Linked DNA regions of Homo sapiens. The protein of the gene in region 7 interacts with the protein of the main gene of each other region in a biochemical or structural test. Each region holds a gene or a part of one and is shown on either strand. Other genes may lie near its edges.

Evidence for each region.
Region 1: the proteins of CDK18 (region 7) and GOPC interact in a test that uses a peptide from one of them, tested with the Homo sapiens proteins (one large-scale study listed by IntAct).
Region 2: the proteins of CDK18 (region 7) and SIPA1L2 interact in a test that uses a peptide from one of them, tested with the Homo sapiens proteins (one large-scale study listed by IntAct).
Region 3: the proteins of CDK18 (region 7) and ARHGAP21 interact in a test that uses a peptide from one of them, tested with the Homo sapiens proteins (one large-scale study listed by IntAct).
Region 4: the proteins of CDK18 (region 7) and PDZD2 interact in a test that uses a peptide from one of them, tested with the Homo sapiens proteins (one large-scale study listed by IntAct).
Region 5: the proteins of CDK18 (region 7) and ARHGEF11 interact in a test that uses a peptide from one of them, tested with the Homo sapiens proteins (one large-scale study listed by IntAct).
Region 6: the proteins of CDK18 (region 7) and PDZK1 interact in a test that uses a peptide from one of them, tested with the Homo sapiens proteins (one large-scale study listed by IntAct).

Annotation. Positions count from the first base shown.
Region 1 is NC_000006.12:117,592,512-117,596,011, forward strand, and holds part of GOPC (Golgi-associated PDZ and coiled-coil motif-containing protein), read right to left. Parts: intron 1-3,500.
Region 2 is NC_000001.11:232,511,634-232,515,133, reverse strand, and holds part of SIPA1L2 (signal-induced proliferation-associated 1-like protein 2), read left to right. Parts: coding exon 1-1,277; intron 1,278-3,500.
Region 3 is NC_000010.11:24,594,888-24,598,387, reverse strand, and holds part of ARHGAP21 (rho GTPase-activating protein 21), read left to right. Parts: intron 1-378; coding exon 379-443; intron 444-804; coding exon 805-941; intron 942-1,505; coding exon 1,506-1,648; intron 1,649-2,344; coding exon 2,345-2,500; intron 2,501-2,592; coding exon 2,593-2,671; intron 2,672-3,197; coding exon 3,198-3,271; intron 3,272-3,348; coding exon 3,349-3,438; intron 3,439-3,500. UniProt on the Homo sapiens protein: Functions as a GTPase-activating protein (GAP) for RHOA and CDC42. Downstream partner of ARF1 which may control Golgi apparatus structure and function. Also required for CTNNA1 recruitment to adherens junctions.
Region 4 is NC_000005.10:31,642,131-31,645,630, forward strand, and holds part of PDZD2 (PDZ domain-containing protein 2), read left to right. Parts: intron 1-3,500.
Region 5 is NC_000001.11:157,035,743-157,039,242, reverse strand, and holds part of ARHGEF11 (rho guanine nucleotide exchange factor 11), read left to right. Parts: intron 1-3,500. UniProt on the Homo sapiens protein: May play a role in the regulation of RhoA GTPase by guanine nucleotide-binding alpha-12 (GNA12) and alpha-13 (GNA13). Acts as guanine nucleotide exchange factor (GEF) for RhoA GTPase and may act as GTPase-activating protein (GAP) for GNA12 and GNA13.
Region 6 is NC_000001.11:145,700,869-145,704,368, forward strand, and holds part of PDZK1 (Na(+)/H(+) exchange regulatory cofactor NHE-RF3), read right to left. Parts: intron 1-3,500. UniProt on the Homo sapiens protein: A scaffold protein that connects plasma membrane proteins and regulatory components, regulating their surface expression in epithelial cells apical domains.
Region 7 is NC_000001.11:205,507,669-205,511,168, forward strand, and holds part of CDK18 (cyclin-dependent kinase 18), read left to right. Parts: intron 1-3,500. UniProt on the Homo sapiens protein: May play a role in signal transduction cascades in terminally differentiated cells.

The DNA.
Region 1 (3,500 bases), on a different chromosome or scaffold from region 7:
CTGTTGGCAATCACTGGCATCCCTTGGCTTGTAGATACATCACTCCAATCTCTGCTTCTATCATCACATAGCCTTCTTCTCTGTGTCTGTGTGTGGCCTTTTCTGTCTCCTATCAGCACACTTTCATTGGATTTAGGGCCCCCTCTAATCCACTATAATCTTACCTCCATCTTTACATAATTACACCTGCAAAGACCCTCTTTCTAAATAAGGTCACATTCTGAGGTTTTGGGGGTGGATATGAATTTTGGAGGGATACGATTCAACCCACTACAGATACTGATCAATCATTTCCCAAACAGAAATGCAGTGTTATCCTTAACCCTTTCTCTTATCTCCTGCATCTACATAATTATCAAATCCTGTCAATTCTCCTTCCTTAGTCTTCAATTTATCTCCTTTTCATCAGCCCCATTACCACTTTCACTTCAATAACACACTTGTCTGTATAACAAACTCCTTTGCTATAACATTGAATAAACCTAGTTATTACTCTCATTACTGTGCCTGTACCTAAACAGATATGCATTGCTAGAGAAAATCACACAACAGTACAGACCGGTTGCACCATAATTTATGATAACTAACCCCAAGCCATTCCTCAACAATGCCTGGCAGTCCTGTTTCTCTGGCCAATTGGCTCTCCCACTCTTCCATTACTATCTCAAACCTCTTCTACTAGCCTCATGCTCTTACTCTCACCTACTTTTAGCAACTGACGTGGGCTCCTATTTTACAGAAAAAAAAAAGCCATCAGACAGAAACTTCCACAACCTCCTACTGTCTGCTCCCATTCTCTCCCTCTTCTAAGTAGCTGTTATTACAAAATCTTACTAATATTAACTACCCCACTCTTTTTCTATATTTGGCTTTTCTCTCAAGTAGATGCTTCTCACAGACTTATGTTTTATTTGTTTTTATTTAAAAACAAAATGAAAACAAAACCTCCCTTGTACCCTACAATCTCACTTCTTGCTATCTATTCAGCCACACTCACTCTTTCTGTCTGCTTCTCTCTCCACCTCCTCCATCCCCCATCAGACATAATGTGTTTGTGCAGAGACTGATTTCTCTAGCTCCGTAGCCTCAGGCCTCTTACTTAATCCCTGTAAAGTTGGAGTAACTATACTAATAAACCTGTTTCCAGGACTGTTGTGAGAATTGGATGAATCAGTCTATGTAAAAGACTCAGAAGAGAGGTTGGCCCATGGTAACTGATCAATAAAGTTGGCAATATTGTTATTGCTAATAATATAACACATTCATCTATCTATTCAGGCAACCAGCTGCACAAGATTGTCACTTGGATTTATCCTGAACTCCCTCATCCCTCTGTTCCAATCCATCTCTAGGTTTTTTTTATTTTTACCTCTCCAGTTTCTCTTGTTCTGAATACCTTCTCCTACCTCTATTATCTTACTCCACACTATCATAATCTCACATAAACAGAAACCTTCTAAACAATTTTCTGCATTCATTCATGTCATTCTCTGCAATTTTCTCCATACCATAGTCAGAGTGAACTATTCTAACTTCATATCTGAGGCTACGAACTGGTTTAAAAGACTTCCCACGATTATGATAAAGCCCCAAATATTTTTGCATGGCCATAAAGTCATGTAGAAATAGTCCCTCTCTGTCTGTTCAAACTTATCTTGTGCCTTGCTTCTTTTGCCCTCTTCTCTTGTTACACATACCAACTATCTCTCGAATCTTCAAATGCACTATGCGCTTGCCCACCACAGGTGCTTTTCACTTCCCATTCCCTCTACGGCAATGTTGAATGGCATTCCTATTTCTCTTAGCTTAATTCATTCCTATTTACACATAATTCCTTTATGTCTTAGCTCAATAACTTCCTCAGGGAAGCCTTCTCTGACATCCCAAAATAGGGTCTCATTTACTCTTATGTACCTTTCATAGTATTCATCAAAGTTGCAATTTCTCATTTACATGATTATTCTCCCAACAAATTCCTCCAATATAATCCAAACTCCATAAAAGCCATGACTACATCCCTTTTTTGCTCTCCATTGTATCCTAAGTGCCCAATACAGCATCTGGCACATAATTCGTGTTCATAAGTGCGTACTGGATCAATATTAAACTTAAGCTTCAATGTTGCAAAACAGCCTATTTAAAAACAGGACAGATTTAAAGCAGCAAAGGGACAAGCATATCACCAGTTCATTATCAATGTGGCTCTAGATCAAAGTTAAAAGTTTCTCTACTGTTGGCTATGAATAATAAATCACTTCAAAGAGATACTAACAGAGCAATTGCTGAGGGAAAGGAGGATGTGAAAGAAGGTGTATTGTTGTGCTGTTACTTTAAAAAAGGAGTAACAGGCAGAACACTCTTTCAAGGCAGAGGTGAATTTTTTAAAGTATTGGTTCACAATCTTTATTCTATTCCAACACACCTACTACTGCTAGTATTACTATTCCTACTGTAAACCTAAAAGGAAAAGGCTGAGGCACAAAATATACTTTAGTTTACCTGAGCCAAAATGAGGACAGCTACTCAACACATATTTCCCAGATGCCTGGGGAGTGCTCTGGCACCTGAGTTACAAGCAGATTTTAAAGGGAAAAAGGAACAAGGCAGATACAAAGTTGCTTGATAAGAATTCTCATTGGTTTACAATCACTGATTAGTGACTGGCTATTCATTGTTGCACTATAAGGTATGACTTATGGTGTCCAGCATATGGTATTTTATGGCTACTTGGCGTCAGTTAGTCTAAATCCTACATAGAAGGTGGCTTCCAGAGATAACTGCTTAGGTCAAAAGGGAGTGCCATAACTGCGGTTTCATTCCAATGCCTCTCTAGGCCTCACAATGGAAAGGAACTCAGTTGTGTTTTGTTTTGTTTGTTTGGGTTTTGTTTTGTTTTTTCAATAGGTTTCTGGGGAACAGGTGGGGTTTGGTTATGTGAATAAGTTATTTAGTGGTGATTTCTGAGATTCTGGTGCACCCATCACCTGAGCAGTGTACACTGTATCCAATGTGTCATCTTTTATCCCTCATCCCCTTCCCACCCTTTACTCCAGATCCCCAAAGTCCATTGTATCATTCATATGCCTTTGCATCCTCCTAGCTTAGCTCCCATGTATGAGTGAGAACATACATTTTGTTTTCCACTCCTGAGTTACTTCATTTAGATAATGGTCTCCAATCAATTCCACCCAGGTTGCTGCAAGTGCCACTATTTCATTCCTTTTTATGGCTGAGTAATATTCCAGGTGTCTGTATATATACACACCACATTTTTTTAATCCACTTATTGATTGATGGGTATTTGGGCTGGTTCCATATTTTTGCAATTATGAGTTGTGCTAGTATAAACATGTTTGCAAGTATCTTTTTCATATAATGACTTCTTTTCCTCTGGGTAAATACCCAGGAGTGGGGTTGCTGGATCAAATGGTAGATCTACTTTTAGTTCTTTGAGGAATCTCCACACTGTTTTTCATAGTGGTTGGTGGTTTACATTCCCA
Region 2 (3,500 bases), about 27 Mb from region 7:
AGCTGTGCCCAAGATGGGTGTGAGAGCAAGGGTGTCTGAATGGCCTCCTAAAAAGGACTGTTCCAAGGAGCTAACATGCAAGGCACTGTGGGAAAGCCGGTCTCAGACCAGTTATGAAAGCATCACTTCTGTCCTGCAGAATGGGCAGAGTGACCAGAGTGAAGGTCAGCAAGATGAACAGCTCGATCTGGACTTCGTGGAGGCCAAGTACACAATCGGAGACATCTTTGTCCATTCCCCCCAAAGAGGACTTCACCCCATAAGACAGAGGAGCAATAGTGATGTCACTATCAGTGACATTGATGCCGAAGATGTCTTAGACCAAAATGCAGTCAACCCCAACACCGGGGCTGCCCTGCACAGGGAGTATGGAAGTACTTCATCCATCGACAGGCAAGGCTTATCTGGTGAAAACTTTTTTGCTATGCTCAGAGGGTACCGAGTAGAAAATTATGACCACAAAGCAATGGTCCCTTTTGGGTTCCCTGAATTTTTCCGCTGTGACCCTGCAATCTCTCCGAGCCTTCATGCAGCAGCACAGATTTCTAGGGGAGAATTTGTCCGCATCTCAGGATTAGATTATGTGGACAGTGCCCTCCTGATGGGGAGAGACAGGGACAAGCCTTTCAAACGGAGGTTGAAATCAGAGTCGGTGGAAACATCTCTCTTCCGAAAGCTTCGAACTGTTAAAAGTGAGCACGAAACTTTCAAGTTCACGTCTGAGCTGGAGGAGAGCCGACTGGAGAGGGGCATTCGCCCTTGGAATTGTCAGCGATGTTTTGCACATTATGATGTCCAGAGCATTTTGTTTAATATCAACGAAGCCATGGCTACGAGGGCTAATGTGGGGAAAAGGAAAAACATAACCACTGGGGCATCTGCAGCATCCCAGACTCAGATGCCTACGGGCCAGACAGGCAACTGTGAGTCCCCTTTAGGGAGCAAGGAGGACCTCAACTCCAAAGAGAACCTGGATGCCGATGAGGGTGATGGGAAAAGTAACGACCTCGTCCTTAGTTGTCCTTACTTTAGAAATGAGACTGGAGGGGAAGGCGACAGGCGGATTGCGCTCTCTCGAGCCAACTCATCCTCTTTCAGTTCTGGGGAAAGCTGCTCTTTCGAATCGTCACTCAGCTCTCACTGCACAAATGCAGGTGTCTCCGTCTTGGAAGTGCCCAGAGAAAACCAGCCTATTCACAGGGAGAAAGTGAAGCGCTACATCATAGAACACATTGACCTTGGGGCCTATTATTACCGCAAATTCTTCTATGGGAAAGGTAAGGAAGAGCCATGGGCGTTTGCATGTGTCTCGGGAGTAGTTTTTTAAGAACCAGTCACAATGTTTTGCTTTGTGTTGGAGCACCTTCCTCAGAGTGTCCAAGGCCATAGTCCACTGGGCCTGACCTTGTTCTCCATCATGGTCCCTCCATAGCTTCCAGGCTAATTTTTTCTTTAGAAAACTGCAATTCCATGCCTTTGTTTATGGGTAGTCCTTAATGTGTAAATGCCCTTTTGGTTTCTCTTTCTGTCATTCTTTGTCTGCCAATTTGTGATCATCACAAATTCAGACTTGATTTAGATTTCATCCCTTGTAAGAAGTCTTCCCTGATTAATTCTGTCCTCCTCCTATTCCTCTGAATAATCTCTTATGCTGCTTACAGTGGAAAATTCTGTGTTTCCCTCACCTCTCTAATCTTTCTGTACTTTGCTTCTCCAGCATTGCTGTATGTGTTGGACATGTTAAATCTTTGTTGAAAGAATGCCTGAATTACCACAACAGACAAATTTTGTTTTCATGTAGTTCTATAGATGGGCTTAAATGTTAAGACACAAGTGATAAATTATTTAATTCTATGTCAAATAAATGGTTTTTGCTTTACGTATATCTTCAGGCTTGAAGGATGCATTCTTCAGAGGTCATGTAGTTGAATCCTCAACCTTTAAATAAGTGTCCCTAATTATCCCAGGGCTAGGAGAATCTTCTCTGATTTAAAGACCTACAGAGAAACAGGTTCCACATGTGTCAGTAACACATGCCGAGGAAAACACTCCGGCACCTCTCACCACCTTCTTATTGGGTGCAGCTGGTGTCCTTCACGCCTTCATTATAGTGCAGCTTACTTTTCAGAGCTATATTTTTCTGTCTTCAGTTTCACCCGTCAGCCCTCTTCCTGCTCCCAGGGATCCAGGGATAACCTCACAGAGTGCCTGAGGAGGCAGAGGGTGGGCCCCGCTACTCTCCTCCTCCTTTTTCTCAGTGCATAAACTATTCTGCTTCTAGCACAGATAGCTGGGAGCTCACTGTACTTTTATTTATTTATTTTTTTTTTTACTTTAAGTTCTGGGATACATGTTCTGAACATGCAGGTTTTTTACATAGTTATACTTGTGCTATGGTGGTTTGCTGCACCTGTCAACCCATCATCTGGGTTTTAAGCCCTGAATGCATTAGGTGTTTGTCCTAAAGCTCTCCCTCCTGCTTATGAGTGAGAACATGCAGCGTTTGGTTTTCTGTTCCTGTGTTAGTTTGCTGAGAATGATGGTTTCCAGCTTCATCCATGTCCCTGCAAAGGACATGAGCTCATTCTTTTTTATGGCTACATAGTATCCATGGTGTATATGTATGGTAGTTTCTTTATCTAGTCTATCATTGATGGGCATTGGGGTTGGTTCCAAGTCTTTGGTATTGTAAATAGTGCTGCAATAAACATATGTGTGCATGTGCCTTTATAGTAGAATGATTTATAATCCTTTGGGTATATACCCAGTAATGACATTGCTGGGTCAAATGGTATTTCTGGTTCTAGATCCTTGAGGAATCGCCACACTGTCTTCCACAATAGCTGAACTAATTTACACTCCCACCAACAGTGTAAAAATGTTCCTATTTGTCCACATCCTCTCCAGCATCTGTTGTTTCCTGACTTTAATGATCGCCATTCTAATTGGCGTGAGATGGTATCTCATTGAGGTTTTGATTTGCATTTCTTTAATGACCAGTGATGATGAGCTTTTTTCATATGTTTGTTGGCCGCATAAATGTCTTCTTTTGAGAAGTGTCTGTTCATATCCTTTGCCCACTTTTTGATGGGGTTGTTTTGTTCTTGTAAATTTGTTTCAGTTCCTTGTAGATTCTGGATATTAGCCCTTTGTCAGATGGACAGATTGCAAAAATTTTCTCCCATTCTGTAGGTTGCCTGTTGCCTCTGATGATAGTTTCTTTTGCTGTGTAGAAGCTCTTTAGTTTAATTAGATCCCATTTGTCATTTTTGGCTTCTGTTGTCATTGCTTTTGCTGTTTTAGTCATGAAGTCTTTGCCCATGCCTATGTCCTGAATGGTATTGCCCAGGTTTTCTTCTAGGGTTTTTATGGTTTTAGATTTTAATTTCATCAGTATTGGTTTCTGTCTTGAGAATATTTGTGTAATTTTTGACTGTAGTTTGTTTTATTGGAGTGGGTTGGGGAGGGTGGGTAACACAGACCTTAGGAGGTCACTCTGT
Region 3 (3,500 bases), on a different chromosome or scaffold from region 7:
GAAAAATCACTTACACGTATATTTCTTAAATGCTGATCATTCTTTCTGGTATTAGAGAAAACACTGGCTGCTTCCTAGTCATTTATTTTAAATGGACGGATCAATTCAATAAGTATTGAACACATGTTACTTGCTGGTACTATCCTAGGTATCGCATGGATACAGAAAAGAAGCAAAACCCTTTGGCAATGTTGGGAGGCACTTGGAAAATCTTTCACACAGTGATGTTGAATAGAAGCTTTGAAACAGCTCCACTGAGAACAGATGATAGTAGTGTTTGTGTTAAATAAGCAAAGCAGTACAATAGAAAGCCTCAAAAAAGTAAGGATCACTTATTTATGTTTAGAATTGATTTTCTAATTTTACTTTATTCTGTAGGACACTGGAGTCACTAACAGGGATCTAATTAGTCGAAGAATAAAAGAATACAACAATCTGATGAGGTGAGAATCCCACCTTGCCTGCAGTTAATTTGGATATAAAATCAGTACAGTCATCCCCCTTATTTGCAAGGATACATTCCAAGACCCCCAGTGGATGCTTGAAACCGCAGATAGTACCAAATCCTCTCTACGCTATATTTTTTCCCATATAGTAATGGGCGGGTAGTGTATACAGTGTGGCTACTCGGGATGAAAGGATGATTCTTATTCTGGGCAGGACTACAAAATTGAAAGCTTATGAATTGTTTATTCCAAGAATTTTCCAGTTAATATTTTCAGACCATGGCTCACCACGGGTAACTGAAACCATAGATAGAGGGGGATTACTGTAATTGTTAACAAATGTCATTTCCTTCAACAGCAAAGCAGAACAGTTGCCAAAAACACCTCGCCAGAGTCTCAGCATCAGGCAAACTTTGCTTGGTGCTAAATCAGAGCCAAAGACTCAAAGCCCACACTCTCCGAAGGAAGAGTCGGAAAGGAAACTTCTCAGTAAAGGTATTGATGTTAGCTTTCTAACAAATAAATATAATGATTTAAAATTGGCATCGTTGAGGTACGTTTATGTTTTCTGTACCATTTCTACTGACCAGGCCCCATGTCAACTAGCTCAAAATTCATAGTAGGCTTGGTCTGGGCTCATTGGGCCTTTCCCTTTGTGAGGCCCAAGACACCAGCTTCATTATAAAGCGAAAGTGAGGGAAAATACAAACAATACTTAAATCAGAGACATTACAAATTTAAATGACTCCGAGGATTCAGGTCCTATCATTTTGAAATAAAACTATTACTTTTCCCTTTGTTGAAGTCTCACTATAAAGATGACACACTGATTCTATGTAGTTTTTTTTTTTGCTGTTTTAAAGAAAATTATAGCACGCATTATAAAAGAATGAAGTAAAAGTTATATGGAAGAGAACATATTTTTGTTAAATATAGGATGTATTATTTATATTACAGGACTTGGATTTATGTAAACATTGATAAAGTGTTTTTAAAGTCATGATTTAGACACTCATTTCCATTTTATTATGTTGTTTTATTTTGACTGGCAATCAAAAGATGATACCAGTCCCCCAAAAGACAAAGGCACATGGAGAAAAGGCATTCCAAGTATCATGAGAAAGACATTTGAGAAAAAGCCAACTGCTACAGGAACTTTCGGCGTCCGACTAGATGACTGCCCACCAGCTCATACTAATCGGGTAGGAGACACCAGCCCACCGGATTTCCTCAAGTCATTAATTCAGTTTTGATTATAATGGGATCTGAGTATATAGCCTTTCAGACAACAGAGACTGTCAATCTGTTTTCCTTTTCATAGCAGACCTTAGTTTCCCTAAGTATTTCTGACCTGTAATGCTTTTTTTCTAATGTATTGACTCCGAAATTGAATAATTATTCAACCATTAGGAATTTGTCTGAAATGGTCTGTAAGAATTCGTCTTCAAATCGTGTGTTTCTGCTTTTAGCATTTTAAAACAAGGATGAGAACAAGGACCTGATTAAGAAAGTATAATACATGTAAATGTATGTGCATATATTTAAAACACCCATGCTAGGATTCGTATCATGAATTGATATTACTCTCTCCTCCTCTTTTCTTGACTCTTTATTCAGCGGAACGGTTTCCACATTCTCTTTACCTGTTGTTACTTCCTTTTTAGAATGTTATCTCTCTGGGGGTCCCTCTCTTTCTTTCAGTCTCTTTGTTCTCTTCTTACTGTCTCAAATATCTCTTGCAGGTTTTATCTATTCCCAGATCTATAATGTCTGTATTCTTTATATTACATAACAGCAATTTATGTTTCCTTTTGGATGAAAGGGGCATTTTAGCTGTGATATACAACTACTAAACATTTGTGCTGCATTAAATAAAATGTTTATTTCTTGTTTTGCAGTATATTCCATTAATAGTTGACATATGTTGCAAATTAGTTGAAGAAAGAGGTCTTGAATATACAGGTATTTATAGAGTTCCTGGAAATAATGCAGCCATCTCAAGTATGCAAGAAGAACTCAACAAGGGAATGGCTGATATTGATATACAAGATGATGTAAGTTTGCTTATTTGAATAACTGATCCTTTTTTTTCCCCCTTTGGTGGAACTGGATATGAAAATACTATATTTCTATTTTGTACACCTAGAAATGGCGAGATTTGAATGTGATAAGCAGTTTACTAAAATCCTTCTTCAGAAAACTCCCTGAGCCTCTCTTCACAAATGGTGAGTTAACTCCCGTGAAAGATACCAGATGAAATGGTTCAAGTTACAATTGGAAAACCATAGAATATTAAATTGAACAAGGACAAAATGTCTTGGTCAAAGGAAGCAGGAGGCTTTATTTAGTTCTCCCTCATATATTAAAAACATAAAAGTTATTTAGGTTCAGTGAAATATGTATTATCTTGTTCATACATGTTTGCAGCCAAATTAATATTATTGTTTCCAGTCAAATGGCTTCTGACATCATAAGGTACAATGAGTAGAAAAATGTTTTTTCAGTCAAGCCAAGTATTTAAGTGCCATGTAAGACACTTTACTAGATGTTGTTGGAGGGTGGGGGAGGAATGGACAGGCTGTGTAAATATAGGATGGTTCCTGCAGGGAACTTACATTTTAGAAATTTACATTTCAAAACTATTAGAACTCTTTCCTATGTTGTGGTTTAAAATTGATCCTTAAAGGGAAACTAGATTACAATTCACCTAGGCAATTTAAGATAAATTTGTTTTATTGTTCTTGTCGTCAGATAAATATGCTGATTTTATTGAAGCCAATCGTAAAGAAGATCCTCTAGATCGTCTGAAAACATTAAAAAGACTAGTAGGTATTATTTTATATTTTGGGGGATACAACTAAAATTCAGCCTCTGAATCCATTGTGAAAATAATCTGTTTCAGATTCACGATTTGCCTGAACATCATTATGAAACACTTAAGTTCCTTTCAGCTCATCTGAAGACAGTGGCAGAAAATTCAGAAAAAAATAAGGTATGTAAAATGCTTATTGAAGAAATGTACTTTTAGTGGCTTTAGTTTAAAAGATATGCTTC
Region 4 (3,500 bases), on a different chromosome or scaffold from region 7:
CCTACTGCACCATCCACAAGGGGACAAATTCCAAAGATGAACCCACAAAAGGTCAGGAGCAAATCCAAAGAGAGGCTGAATCTCTTTAAGAAGACAGACTTAGAGACTCAAGTTTTCAGCTTCTTTCTTCTGCCCTCAGACACATCCCCGCAGCACCAGGGAGGATGCTGAGGTCAGAGTTGAGTTTCAAGGACAGGAAGAGCTATGCAGACAAGCCCATGAGAGAGGTTAGCAGACAAGTGGAGAGGCAGGGATGTCTCAGAGACGCCCATCCCCAGAAGGATGATAGGAAAAGGCCACTGATAGAACAGTGTCTGCAAGGGGTGTTCATGAAGCCAGGCTGCAAGGGAAGAAGGAGACAATGATTGCCAAGACAGTGAAACTGCAGGTATAGACACTGGATCCAGAAGTGTGCTGTTTGAAAATAATCCACAGTATTTTGAGGAGGTTGTAGCATTGAAGGAGGGTTTATTCATGAGAGTCCCTCCATTCTCCCTCCCAGGCATGTTTGGTAAACAAAAGAGATGTGGGAGAGAGTAGAGAAGCTAGATCAGGGGTGTTTGGGCTGGAAGAGGTGAGCAAGTGCAGGGAAAGAACAATCCTGGCATCTGCCTTCTCTGGAAGGCCAGAGGGAAGCAGAGGTTGGTGAGGCCCTGGAGAGAATGAGGAAAACAGGGGAGGCATTTGCTGAGACCTGGGGTCACTTCGTGAAGCTGGGGCCTGGAGGAAAGGGCTGCGGTACTGCTGCCTGCCAGGGGAAGCAAACCCGGCACCTGGCACCAGTGGAGGCAGCCAGGAGGGAAAGGAAGGACTCCTGAGTTGGGGTCAGAGGCTTTGGCTGGAATCCTAGCAGTGCAGAGAACTTCCTGCTGGGCCAGATGATTAGAAATGTTGAAGCCTCCATTTGCTCATGTATAAAATTGATGCAGTCGCTACTTCACAGGGTTGTTCTTAGGAGGAATCGAAAGAGGTACTAAGGTGTGTTTGGAAGGCCCTCCATGACCGCATCTGCTGTATAGGGGGTCCTTTCGAACAGTGTGTCCAGAAATGCATAAACCTCTCACCAAAGTCAGTGAGAGCCCAGTGGAATGGAGAAGGCAGGAGTTTTTAGCAGACTTGCCTGAAGCTTTCTTTCAGCTGTGGATGAAAAGTTTTGGACTACTCTGAGCAGTTGGGTCTCCCTGTTTGCACCTTGACAAATCCTTCAAGATTTCTGCCTTTTAATCCATTGGCTTGTTGCAGTGCTGCGTCTAAATTTAATGTCCCTCTCTTTTGCAAAGATCCAGTTACCAGGTGCAAGGCAGGAAGAGGCTGGACAGTCTCCTCTGTCCTCCATGGTTTGGAAGGGCATCATGCACTCACACTCGGTAACACCTGCATTTGAGGAAGCTAAGGCCCAGAAAAACAGAGAACTTGCCCCATTAGACAACCAGAACTAGAGTCACAAAACACAGTTGCTTGATCTGGGGAACTCTTGTCTTTCAATAGCAGTGGTGTTGGCCAAGATGCAGGTGGCTGAGGAAGAATTAAAAATCTGCAATCCCCCTTGGTTTTATTAATGGGTCTTTGATTATAGTTGAAAAGATGAAAAAACAGTCTCACTTATTAGTGAAGCGGGAAAGAAAAGGAGCATTTGACTTACTAAACACTAAGTAGATATGTGCCAAATTAAATGAAATTGGGGAAAATGTGAATAATTTTTTTTTTTTTTGAGACAGGGTCTCACTCTGTCACCCAGGCTGCAGTGGCATGACCACGGCTCACAGCAGCCTTGACCTCCCCGGCTCCAGTGATCCTTCCACCTCAGCCTCCCAAGTAGCTGGGAAGCTGGGACTACAGACACCACCGCACCTGGCTAATTTATTATTTTTTAAAAATTTTTTGTAGAGATGGGGTTTTACCATGTTGCCCAGGCTGGTATCAAACTCCTGGGCTCAAGCGATCCACCCACCTCAGCCTCCCAAAGTGCTGGGATTATAGGCATTGAAGAATGTTTTTTAAGGAAATTAAAGTATAGAATTATCTGGAAAATTTTCTGAAATTATTCCTTATTTTCCAACCGGATGGTCTATGTCTAGATTTGGACCTATGCATCGGTTGCATATAAAAGGATAGATCTTTTTATGGTATCTAGAAATTTGACAATCTTGATCTCCTATTATCCATACTTTAGAAATAGAGAAAAGATGGAATTGGAAAAGAATACATTTCCCATGGGTTCTAGCGGGGAGTGTTTGAAGCCAGGTAGGTCATCTGATTCAGTCTGATTGTCTGAGAGCTAAAGAGTTCTGCCTTCTATTTACAAATGTGTTCAAGAAGACACTGGGAGCATTTACAATTTGAAAACTTAATAGTTGAAGAGGCCTTTTGTGGTCTGATAAGGCGGCTGAGCCGAGAGATGGTTTGTTAAGACACTAAGCATGCGGAGAAGACACATTTGTCTTTTAAGCCTCTCCAGCTCCAGGAAGAGGCCTACCCCCGGCCGTGGCTTCTCTCCAATGCCAGTAGTGTGTTCACCCCACACTCTTGATGGGGCCAGCAAACAGTCTCCATTCTGAAAGTTCTGGCTGCTCCATGCATGCATTCCCTACCAGAATGCGTTCTGAGTGAATAATGAGTGGTCTATGAACTTCCAGAAAATCAGAAACTTAAGATTCTCAACTCTCTTTATGAAGCCATTGAATGAAACCAGATAGCATTGAACACCTGGTTGACAAAGTTATTCTTGGATTATATGTTTTTATATACAGTGTTTCTGGGGCTCATCAAGCCCTCTAGGTAGGAGGCCTGAAGAGGTTTTGGAGAAGCAGCATTGGGGGAACCGACTTCACAGCACAGAGGATTAATTTTGCACACACAATTGTTGCGAGCTCTGAATGAAATAATAGCAAGGAGATGGGGGAAGTTTTGTTGTCTTTTAAGTCTAAGAAGCAGCCTGAAATGCCTAGATATCCACAGGAGGATTTAAAAAATCACAAATTCTTAAGGATCTGCAAGTCCTTGAAAGGGCATTATCCAATCTCTTGCCTTCAGGGAGGAATAAACTTAGCTCATTCCAGTTAAGGATCTATGGTTTTAACAGCTTCCTGAGGAAGGGGCGTCCATGGCATATTTGGCCCTTAACACAGTGATGCCCCAGACTGGTTCTTTGAGGTGTTTTAGCAGGAGTCGAAATGGATTTCAGAGGGGTTACTCTTGGTCTCTTTTTTTTTTTTTTTTTTTTTGAGACGGAGTCTTGCTCTGTCGCCCTGCCTGGAGTGCAGTGGCGCGATCTTGGCTCACTGCAACCTCTGCCTCCCAGGTTCAAGTGATTCTCCTCCCTCAGCCTCCTGAGTAGCTGGGACTACAGGTGCGTGCCACCACACCCAGCTAATTTTTGTATTTTTAGTAGAGACGTGGTTTCACCATGTTGGCCAGGATGGTCTTGATCTCTTGATCTTGTGATCCGCCTGCCTTGGCCTCCCGAGGTGCTGAGATTACAGGCGTGAGCCGCTGTGCCC
Region 5 (3,500 bases), about 48 Mb from region 7:
TGTCCTTTCAGTGGGCCAAATGGTTTTTCAGAAATCATTGTCTGGCTTTCCTGAAAATCAGTGAAAATGAAAGCTTGAAAAGAACAGAGAACAAAGCTGCCTGATCAAATGGGAGAGAAGATGGAAGTACAGGGACATGGAAACATGGGGAGGAACTGAGAAATCCATGGCCCCTAATAGAATTGGAATAGGATTTGGAAGGTGGTTTTGTTTTTTGTTTTTTGGGACAGGGTCTCACTCTGTCGCCCAGGCTGGAGTGCAGTGGCATGATCATGGCTCACTGCAGCCTTGACCTCCCCAGGCTCAGGTGGTCCTCCCACTTCAGCCTCCTGAGTAGCTGGCATTACAGGCATGTGCCACCACACCTGGCTAATTTTTGTAGATATGAGGTTCACCATGTTGCCCAGAGTGGTCTCAAACTCCTGAACTCAAGCAATCTGCCCACCTCGGCCTCCCAAAGTCCCAGGATTATGGGTGCAAGCCACCACGCCAGGCCTGGAAGGTGTTCTTAAGGTCTGGAAGAATACCCCAATTTATTGTACTAAAACAATTGGACAGATTTCAGGAAAAAATCACAAAAATCTGGCAGGACTTCAAGGGATCCTCTTGCCCTTTACTCTGGACTCCAAATAGGGTGTCTCTTAACCTAGTAAAGACAGGTTGAAGGCCTCTCCCATTTTCAGTGATCTCTGGAGGATGGTTCCATTAGTTCAACAATTAGAAATCCCTTTGGATACGAAACTTCCTCTGCCACAATTTAAAACCATTTTATTGTCTTTCTATTGTGATTTCAGCGTAGGCCTTAAAGTCACTAGTATCCCTCTATTACCATTGTTGACTTCCTTAAGATTTTCCTCCTCATTTTAAAGAATAGCAAACTAAGACATGAATATGTGAGAAAGGGGCTTTGAAAAGTTAGAGTGAAGTAATTTCAGAGTCTTGCTTTCCAGACCCTGCTCCTTTCCAGTATTTGGGAGCAGCCACTACAAAGTGGTGTGATGGGATCTGTAGTCATCAGTCACAGCCTGGCCTCAAATCATGTAGGGAACCAATCTAGCAGCCCTCCTGGTGATGACCTGTGATCTGTGGCGCTTGACGGTTGGTTGGACTTGAAATATTTATCAGATGGCTCAGTGCAGTTCTCAGTGTTCTGAGAGATAGTACAGGAGAACATAGAGCTTACATTCTTTTTTTTTTTTTTTTTTTTTTTTTTGAGACAGTCTTGCTCTGTCACCCAGGCTGGAGTGCAGTGGCGTGATCTCGGCTCACTGCAACCTCCACCTCCTGGGTTCAAGCGATTCTCTGCCTCAGCCTCCCAAGTAGTTGGGATTACAGACACCTGCCACCACACCCGGTATACTTTTTGTATTTTTAGTAGAGACGGGGGTTTCACCATGTTGGCCAGACTGGTCTCGAACTCCTGACCTCAAGTAAACCGCCCACTTCAGCCTCCCAAAGTGCTGGGATTACAGGCATGAGCCACCGTGCATGGCCTCAAGCCTAAATGCTTGTTGGGAAATGTTATTAACAAAGCAACACAAAATAAAAAGATGGTACATAATTGCTGAATCGTTATGTACACCAAAAGGTACATTTAGAGAAGAGTGCAAGGTTGGTGCTAATAAGAATAGTCAAAGGCAGAGTAGTTAGGAATTATTCAGGTCGAAGAAAGAGAAGAGGCCATTTCAGACTAGAGGAGCAACACGAGCAAGGTTCTGTCTGGGGTGGCACCAACATGGTGTGGTCTCCAAGTGTTAAGATTATTGTAGAGCAGAGAGAAATTAGATTGATAAGATGGGTAGGGTAGGGAGAATGAAGGGATTCAGACTTTATGTGGTAGTAGAAAGGGAGCCGGGGAAGGTTTATGTATTATATGGTGATAAACATAGTGTTTAAAGAGAGAATTCTGATATTAATATATAGAGCAGAAGAGAGCTTGGGGTTAGGAAGCCTAGGAGTTTTTGTAGCAATCTTAGGAAAAGATAACGAGCTTCTGAATCAGAACGGTTATGGTGGGGACAAAGAGGAGTGGCAGGATTCCCAAGACGTTTTGGTAGCAGAATTAACCAGTATTTTAAGACTGAATCAAATTTATTTATTTATTTATTTATTTTGAGACAGAGTTTTGCTCTTGTTACGCAGGCTACAGTGCCATGGCACGATCTTGGCTCACTGCAACCCCTGCCTCCCAGGTTCAAGCAATTCTCATGCCTCAGCCTCCTGAGTAGCTGGGATTACAGGTGCCTGATCCCATGCCTGGCTAAGTTTTTATATTTTTTAGTAGAGACGGGGTTTCACCATGTTGGCCTGGCTAGTCTCAAACTCCTGATCTCAGGTGATCCGCCCGCCTCCACCTCCCACAGTGCTGGGATTACAGGTGTAAGCCACCGTGCACTGCCCTGAATCAAATTTTATTCCCAAATTTATGAGACTGGTGGACTAGGAGAAGGGTAGTGCTATTGATAGACTAGGATCTTCAGTAGAAGTCATTTTGTCTGCCATTGATACCTAGCAATTTACTGAATACAGTGGATACTTAACCTTCCTTAGACCCTTAGGTTAGGCCATTTCTACCAAATAGTTTTAGAGCTCTTCAATACAGCTTTTTAAGAGAAGCAGGAGGCTGGGCGTGGTGGCTCACGCCTGTAATCCCAGCACTTTGGGAGGCCGAGGTGGGTGGATTACCTGAGGTGAGGCGTTTGAGACCAGCCTGGCCAACATGGTGAAACCCCGTCTCTACTAAAGATACAAAAATTAGCCTGATGTGTTGGTGCACGCCTGTAGTCCCAGCTACTTGGGAGGCTGAAGCAGGAGAATCACTTGAACCCGGGAGACAGAGGTTGCAGGGAGCTGAGATCGCACCCCTGCACTCCAGCCTGGGTGACAGAGCAAGACTCTGCCTCAAAAAAACAAACAAAAAACAAACAAAAAAAAGTGAGTAGTCAGTTCTGGGAGATCCCTTAGGAAGTTGGGTCATGGTTTGAGGAGATTAGCATGTATTTGATGGATCCTGATTAATCAGCCATATATATATATGTATATATATTCATATATGTATTCATATATGTATTCATATATATATTCATATATGTATTCATATATTCATATATATATTTTCATATATATATTCATATATATTCATATATGTATTTTCATATATATATTCATATAGATTCATATATATATTCCTATATAGATTCATATATATATTCCTATATATAGATTCATATATATATTCCTATATATAGATTCATATATATATATTCCTATATATAGATTCATATATATATATTCCTATATATAGATTCATATATATATATTCCTATATATAGATTCATATATATATATTCCTATATATATTCCTATATATATTCCTATATATATTCCTAAATATATACATATATATATTCCATATATATATTCCTATATATATATTCCTGTATATATATTCCTATATATATATATTCCTGTATATATATATATTCCCACATAGCCACCCA
Region 6 (3,500 bases), about 60 Mb from region 7:
TTACATAACCAACACTCAATCCATGAAAACACTAAACACTAAAAACTTAGCAGGGGCTGGGCGCGGGGGCTCATGCCTGTAATCCCAGCAGTTTGGGAGGCTGAGACAGGAGGATCACCTGAGGTCAGCAGTTTGAGACCAGCCTGACCAATATGGTGAAACCCCGTCTCTACTAAAAATACAAAAATCAGCTGGGTGTGGTGGCACACGCCTGTAGTCCCAGCTACTCGGGAGGCTGAGACAGGAGAATTGCTTGAACCCAGGAGGTGGAGGTTGCAGTGAGCCAAGATAGTACCACTGCACTCCAACCTGGGCAACAGAGCGAGACTCCATCTCAAAAAAAAAACAAACACTTAGCAGGACTGCTGGTGAGGAATGTTTAACCCTAGTTACTCTGACTGTGGAAGGGTATCTGATTGTATAATCTAGTATGAAACCATAGAGTAAGTTACTTCTGTTTTGTTGAGGCATAAGGAAAAGAAAGGGCAGGGTCTCTCCGGCAACATTAAACCTAGACATTACTTGCTTTCCACTGAACTCCATGCTTGCCTATAAAACACTCTGAACTTTAGCAAGAAAAAAGCCACATTCTCAGGACGCTTGACCACAGTGTGCACTTTGAGGAATGCTGTTCTTGCAGCACTTGTGTGCATCTGTGTAACAAGAAAGAAGAAAACAAACCCACTAGACTTTTGTTAGGAAAATACAGTTGGTGGAGACTGTGCAACATTAAGCCAGCAACTATAGACAGGCTGAGAATTCCCTACAGGCATCAGCCCTGACTCCAAGGCTTCATGCCTCACACCAGCCATGGCTGGCCTCCTTCAGAGCCTGCCACAGAGCCTTGGCACATGCTGTTCCTTCCAACAGCATAAGCAAAAAAATCCTGCTGTATCTGAGCTGCTACTGACAGATGTCTCTAGCAAGGAAGAGATAAAGACAACTCAATTTCACCCTTCTTCAAATATATTTTACCTAGAACAGATCCTATATTTTTATGCAGATCATATTTAAGGCTGCCTGGATTTCTCCTCTGAAAAGCAAAGCATATGGAAATTCAAATACTCAAGTATATTTACTTTAAATAATTAATATCAAAAATAGAAGGAGAAGCAAGATTCTAAAATATGTATTTGCCTAGTGTACTTTCCCATTGTGATAGTTACTGTTTGGTCTTAGCCAGGGATAAATTTCAAATATGAGAAATCAATGAAATCCATTCCATTGAGAATTATCTGGAGAAGAGTGATCCCAGACCCACTGAGTAGTTTTTATTTCTCATTTATGATCAAGAATGGAATCTACTTATCCCAAAGTTCATTTGGCCTGCTGATACTAAGTACCTTCCCTACCTCCAGCCACCATAAACAATACTTTGTCCTATATGGCAAGACTCTGGGCTGGAGTTCAAGGCCTTTCACAGTTTGATTGCTTATCTAAGAGTTCTATGAGTTGGGAGAGGGATAGAGCCAATATTGTGTGGAAACAGAGGCACCCACAGAGAGAGGACACCCTCATGCTGCTGATAGACAGCTCAACCGCCTTGAGTGCCAGCTGAGACAAGTGCTTTCCCCAAATCGACATTTTGTGACTTTTTGAACTTGCATTTCTACCCCCCCACTTTTTTTTTGGTATGTTTAAACTACTACAAGAGTCTTGCCTCGAGACAAACTTTCTAACCCTGGTTTTATTATACTACCATCTCAAAAATAATAATAATAATAATTCAAGAAAAAGAAGCTCGGCCGGGTGCAGTGGCTCACGCCTGTAATCCCAGCACTTTGGGAGGCCAAGGCAGGCGGATCACGAGGTCAGGAGATCGAGACCATCCTGGCTAACACAGTGAAACCCCATCTCTACTAAAAATACAAAAAATTAGCTGGGTGTGGTGGCGGACGCCTGTAGTCCAAGCTACTCGGGAGGCTGAGGTAGGGGAATGGTGTGAACCCAAGAGGCGGAGCTTGCAGTGAGCCAAGATCGTGCCACTGCACCCCAGCCTGGGCAACAGAGCAAGACTCCGTCTCAAAAAAAAAGAAGTTCAAGCTTCTTGCTCAGGCACTGAGGCTCAGCATAATCCAGCCCTACCTCAGGCCCCCAGCTCCTCAGCAAGCCCCAATTGGTCTATGCATGGTCACCCACACGAGCCTGCCCTTTGCTCATGCCCCATGAGCACTTACTCATAGTACGTGCTAAGTAAACATTTGTTCCAAGTGAACGAATTTAAGACCTACCATTTTCAAGGCTCAGTTCAAATTTTAGATTATATACGAATCCTTCCATGACCACCACAGTCTGAAGGTATCATTTCATCTTCTGAATTTCAGTTATCGCTCATGTACTTAACAAGTTCTATGTAATACCTACTGCGAGGCAGGTATCAGGGCTCAACCCAGAATAGCTACCGTCCTGCCCTGAAAGAGCCTGGAGTCCAGTGGGGAGAGTTATGAAGTTTAACTGCTGAACAACGTTGTGGGTGCTGGAATATTTAAATACAAAAGCTTTCTTATTGTTATATATATTTATTGAGCTCCCTACTAGGATTAGGAACCAGCCTAGGTACTTTTTATGGGTTCTGATTCAATCCTGATGGGCCATTTTACAAGGAAAAAGAAAAGAGACTCTGAAAAGTTAACTTGGTTTCCCCTGACTATTTGGATAAGCAGAGTCTGGATTCAAACCCAGTTGAGTCTGGATTCCTTCCACCATCTACCCTGCCTCCCAGGCCTGAGGTGTAGAATGTATTCTGGAAATACAAGTAGTCAGACTAGGAAGAGGAAGTCATCCCAGGCAGAAGGAACAGCAGGAGATGCATTCCCAGAATGGTGAATGGTTCAGAAAGATCAGAGCACAGTTATATGTTGAAAAAAAGAAGTAGGTTAGACTGTGAGCACTGGACTCAGTCCAGTAGACTATAGAGGAGCTTCAGGATCCATGTCGTGTGTCCCCAACAAGATAAGCTTTTTTTTTTTGGCCAGGAGGGATGGAATCTTGCTCTTGTGGTCCAGGCTAGAGTGCAGTGGTGCGATCTCGGCTCACTGCAACCTCTGCCACTTGGATTCAAGCAATTCTTCTGCCTCAGCCTCCTGAGAAGCTGGGATTGAAGGCACCCGCCACCACACCCGGCTACTTTTTGTATTTTTAGTAGAGATGGGGTTTCACTATGTTGGCCAGGCTGGTCTCAAACTCCTGACCTCAAGTGATCCACCCTCCTCAGCCTCCCAAAGTGCTGGGATTACAGGCGTGAGCCATCATGCCCAGCCAAGATAAGCTTTCTTAAGAGCAGGCACCACAGCCCCTTTCTGTATTCTCACACCATCAGGTATGTATTCAATACAACTGGTGGAAAGTCCACGGGCTTTTCTGGATCATTTAGTTTCATGTCCCCATTGGGACCCCATGGTTCTACGCAGCTTTATGAATGCTGACTATCTGTGCCTCCAACCAGGCTTGGCACCTCAGAAACCAGTGACCACCTCAGACCAAAAGCAAACCTTCTCTAG
Region 7 (3,500 bases):
CACAGTGCCTGGCATGTAGCAGAGACTAAATAACTGGTAGCTATAGTGGTTGGTGGTGCTTGTTTGGAAAGGGAATTTCCTGGTGATTGCACCAGGGCTGGTCTAGAGACCAAGGTAGATTTTCCCAGCCCCATCAGGCCAAGCCCTTAGTTAGACAGAATCTTTACTGCTCTTCCAGGTTAGGGAGGAGGGCTCTGTGTAAGAGAATGGTGGTGGTGGTAGGGGAATGGGTTGGATGGAAATCTTCCAGGAGGGGCCAGGAATCTGTGCTGTGGGGGCCCTACCTTCTGGCAGTTATGAATGAGGCAGGCACTGGGAGCTGGAGAGGCAGCAGTCTCTTGCTCTGAGGGCCCTCTGGCAGCGCCTTCTTTCCCTGAGGTAGGAGGACCCTCCCCTGGTACTTAATTAATTGCAGTCCCTGTTCTGCTCTGTTGTTCAGGGTGAGTGGCTGGCCTGGTTCCAGGCCCACCTGATTAGCCCACCTTTGGCAATAAGTCACATTTCTCTTCCTCGGCTCTGTGTCCCACCATAACCCCTTACGTCCCCTTCCCTGGACTTTTCACCTTTGCCCTCCAGGCATTCCCTGCTGAGTGGGCACTTTCCCACATCCAGGGGGTGGGAGCAGACCAAGGTTAATCTTGTCCTGGCTCCCACAGCTGCTTACACACACACAGCTGCATGCACATGCACACACAGGCTGGGCTCACAACAGCTCAGGCCAAGGGTCTGGGATCCAGGATCACTACAGAGCTGGTAGCTGGGCCTGGCTGGAGCTGGCCAGTGGTTCAGCAGCAAGTCTGGAAGAGGAAAAGCCGTGGGCGCATCTCCGCCAGACCTCCTGTCTGAAAGAGAGCCCATCTGCTCCTAGAATCTCCACAGCTACATCTGCAGAGGAGGAGGGGTAGTGAGGCAAGTGTGAGGTTTGGTTTTAAACTGAAAAGGGAGGTGGGCGGATTGCTTGAGCCCAGGAGGTCGAAACCAGACTGGGCAACATGGCAAGACCCCATCTCTAAAAAAATACAAAAATTAGCCAGGTGTGGTGGCACGCGCCTGTAGTCCCAGCTACTCGGGAGGCTGAGAGGGGAGGATCGCTTGAGCCTAGGAGGTTGAGGCTGCAGTGATCCATGATTGCATCACTGCACTCCAGCCTGGGCAACAGAACAAGAACTTGTCAAAAAAAAAATTGAAAAGGGTCTTAGGCCGGGTGTGGTGGCTCATGCCTGTAATCCCAGCACTTTGGAAGGCCAAGGCGGGTGGATCACTTGAGGCCAGGAGTTTGAGACCAGCCTGGCCAACATGATGAAACCCTGTTTCTCCTAAAAATACAAAAATTAGCTAGGCATGGTGGCGTGTGCCTGTAATCCCAGCTACTCGGGAGGCTGAGGTAGGAGGATCGCTTGAACCCAGGAGGTGGAGGTTGCAGTGAGCCGAGGTCGCACCACTGCACTCCAGCCTGGGCGAGAAACAAAACAAAACAAAACAAAAAACGGGTCTTGAAGCAAAGCTCCCTGACAGCATGAGTAACCCTGAAGAGACTGGACACCTTGCTCTGGGAGACATGGGCCAGAACTTTTGAAAGGACTATGATGAGATCCTCTTTCCTGGAGCTCTTGATAATGGTCCCACCCTCTGAGCCTCCCTACCCCCACCATTAAATAAAAGTCTTCCCTAGAAATGGTGGAGTCGGGATAGACAAGATGACCCAATAATGGCTGGCTGGTGCACTCATCATTATTTATATGTTGAGTGTATGTCTCCTGTCCACCATGGGTGGAGGCAATTTATGGACTTTGGGGTCAGTTCAGATTCTGCCTCTTCCACTCAGTAACTGGTTGCCTTAGGTTAAGTAATTTGCTCACCCAGGTTTCAGTTTCCTCATTTATAAAATAGGAGGATAATACTATTATCTCATGTGATTGCGAGGACTCCAGTGAGATAATGTCCACCTAGTAGCTCTTTGCTTTACCTGATGTCATTATCAAGGGGTGGTGGCAGAGTTAATGGGCTACATTTGGTAGTTCTCAGTGCCTTTGGCCCCACTTGATATTTTTTTCTGAAATCAGGGTCCCTGCAAACATCAGGGATCAGCCCCCAAATTGGGAAGAGAACTCTATTCTTAAAATGTTTCTGGCCAGGCACAGAGGCTCACACCTGTAATCCCAGAACTTTGGGAGGCCGAGGTAGGTGGATCACCTGAGGTCAGGAGTTCAAGACCAGCCTGGCCAACATGGCGAAACCCCATCTCTACTAAAAATACAAAAATTAGCCAGGCATGGTGGCAGGCACCTGTAATCCCAGCTACTCCAGAGGCTGAGGCACGAGAATCGCTTGAACAAGGGAGGCAGAGGTTGCAGTGAGCCAGGATTGTACCACTGCACTCCAGACTGGGTGACAGAGCAAGACTTTGTCTCAAAAAAAAAAAAAAAATTTCTACCCTCCCTCACTCTGAACACTGTTCCCCATCTTATCATTATCGAGGGAAATTCAGAGCTCCAGAATGATTACTGCCCTCACACCTTGCTTCCCTAAAGAAGCCTGCCCTTTTCTGCCTGGGGAGTCTCCTCAGGAACCAGACCTTCTTCTCTTCTCTGGCCCCAGCCACCCAGCACCCTGGGCTGCGGGGTGACCAGCCCAGGAGGTGACAGGGCTGTCCTTCCCACATCCTGGCAGGACCCACTGCCTGGAAGCAGGTGGGCGGTAGGTGTTATGCTAGAGGGCATCACTCTTGACAAAGCAGCACTGGCTCCCAAACTCTGCCTGCAACATGGGATGAGCCCAGGAAAGGGGTCACAGAGCCCCTCCCTGATCCTGCCGTGGAGCCCAGCTGGCAGCATCCCCTGCCGTGGCTGGGCTGGGTGCCATGTTCTGTGTGGGTGCCAAACCTGGCATGGCTCCTTCCCAAGGAAGGTGGCCCTTGGGGATGCTGTGACTTTCTTGGCTGTGGTGACCAATAAAGGGAGTGCCATCTCTACGCAGGCCCATGCAGTCCCTTCCAACCCTGCACAAAGTCAGAAGCCCAAAGTGTGGTCCCAGCTCTGCCCTGTCACCCTCAGTGGCCTCGGGCAGATCGCTCACCTTTCTGAGTCTTGCCTTCTTTGCCTGAAACATGAGGGTGCAGACCAGGGGATTTCCAAAGGCCCCTCTGAGGCTGCTGGTCTGAGGCTCCGACTTTTGCCTGTCCTGCTAACAAGGTGAGCTGTGTGCTGGGGTCCCAAGAGGGGCTCAGCCTCCTGTTCCTCCAAACTGTAGAGCCAGGGGCTTGCCCCAGCTGATGGCTGGGTACCTGGTCCCTGCCATGCTGAGATGGGCAAGGAAATCCTGGAATGCCTCAGCCCTGTCAATTAGGAGGAGAACAACTACCTCGCAAAGAAATGGATGCTGGATTCAAACACTACACAGGCACTGGATGCTCAAGGCTAGGGGTTGGCAAACCATGGCTCTTGGCCAAGTCCCGACAGTTTTTGTATGGCCCATGAGCTAAGAATGATTTTTACATTTTT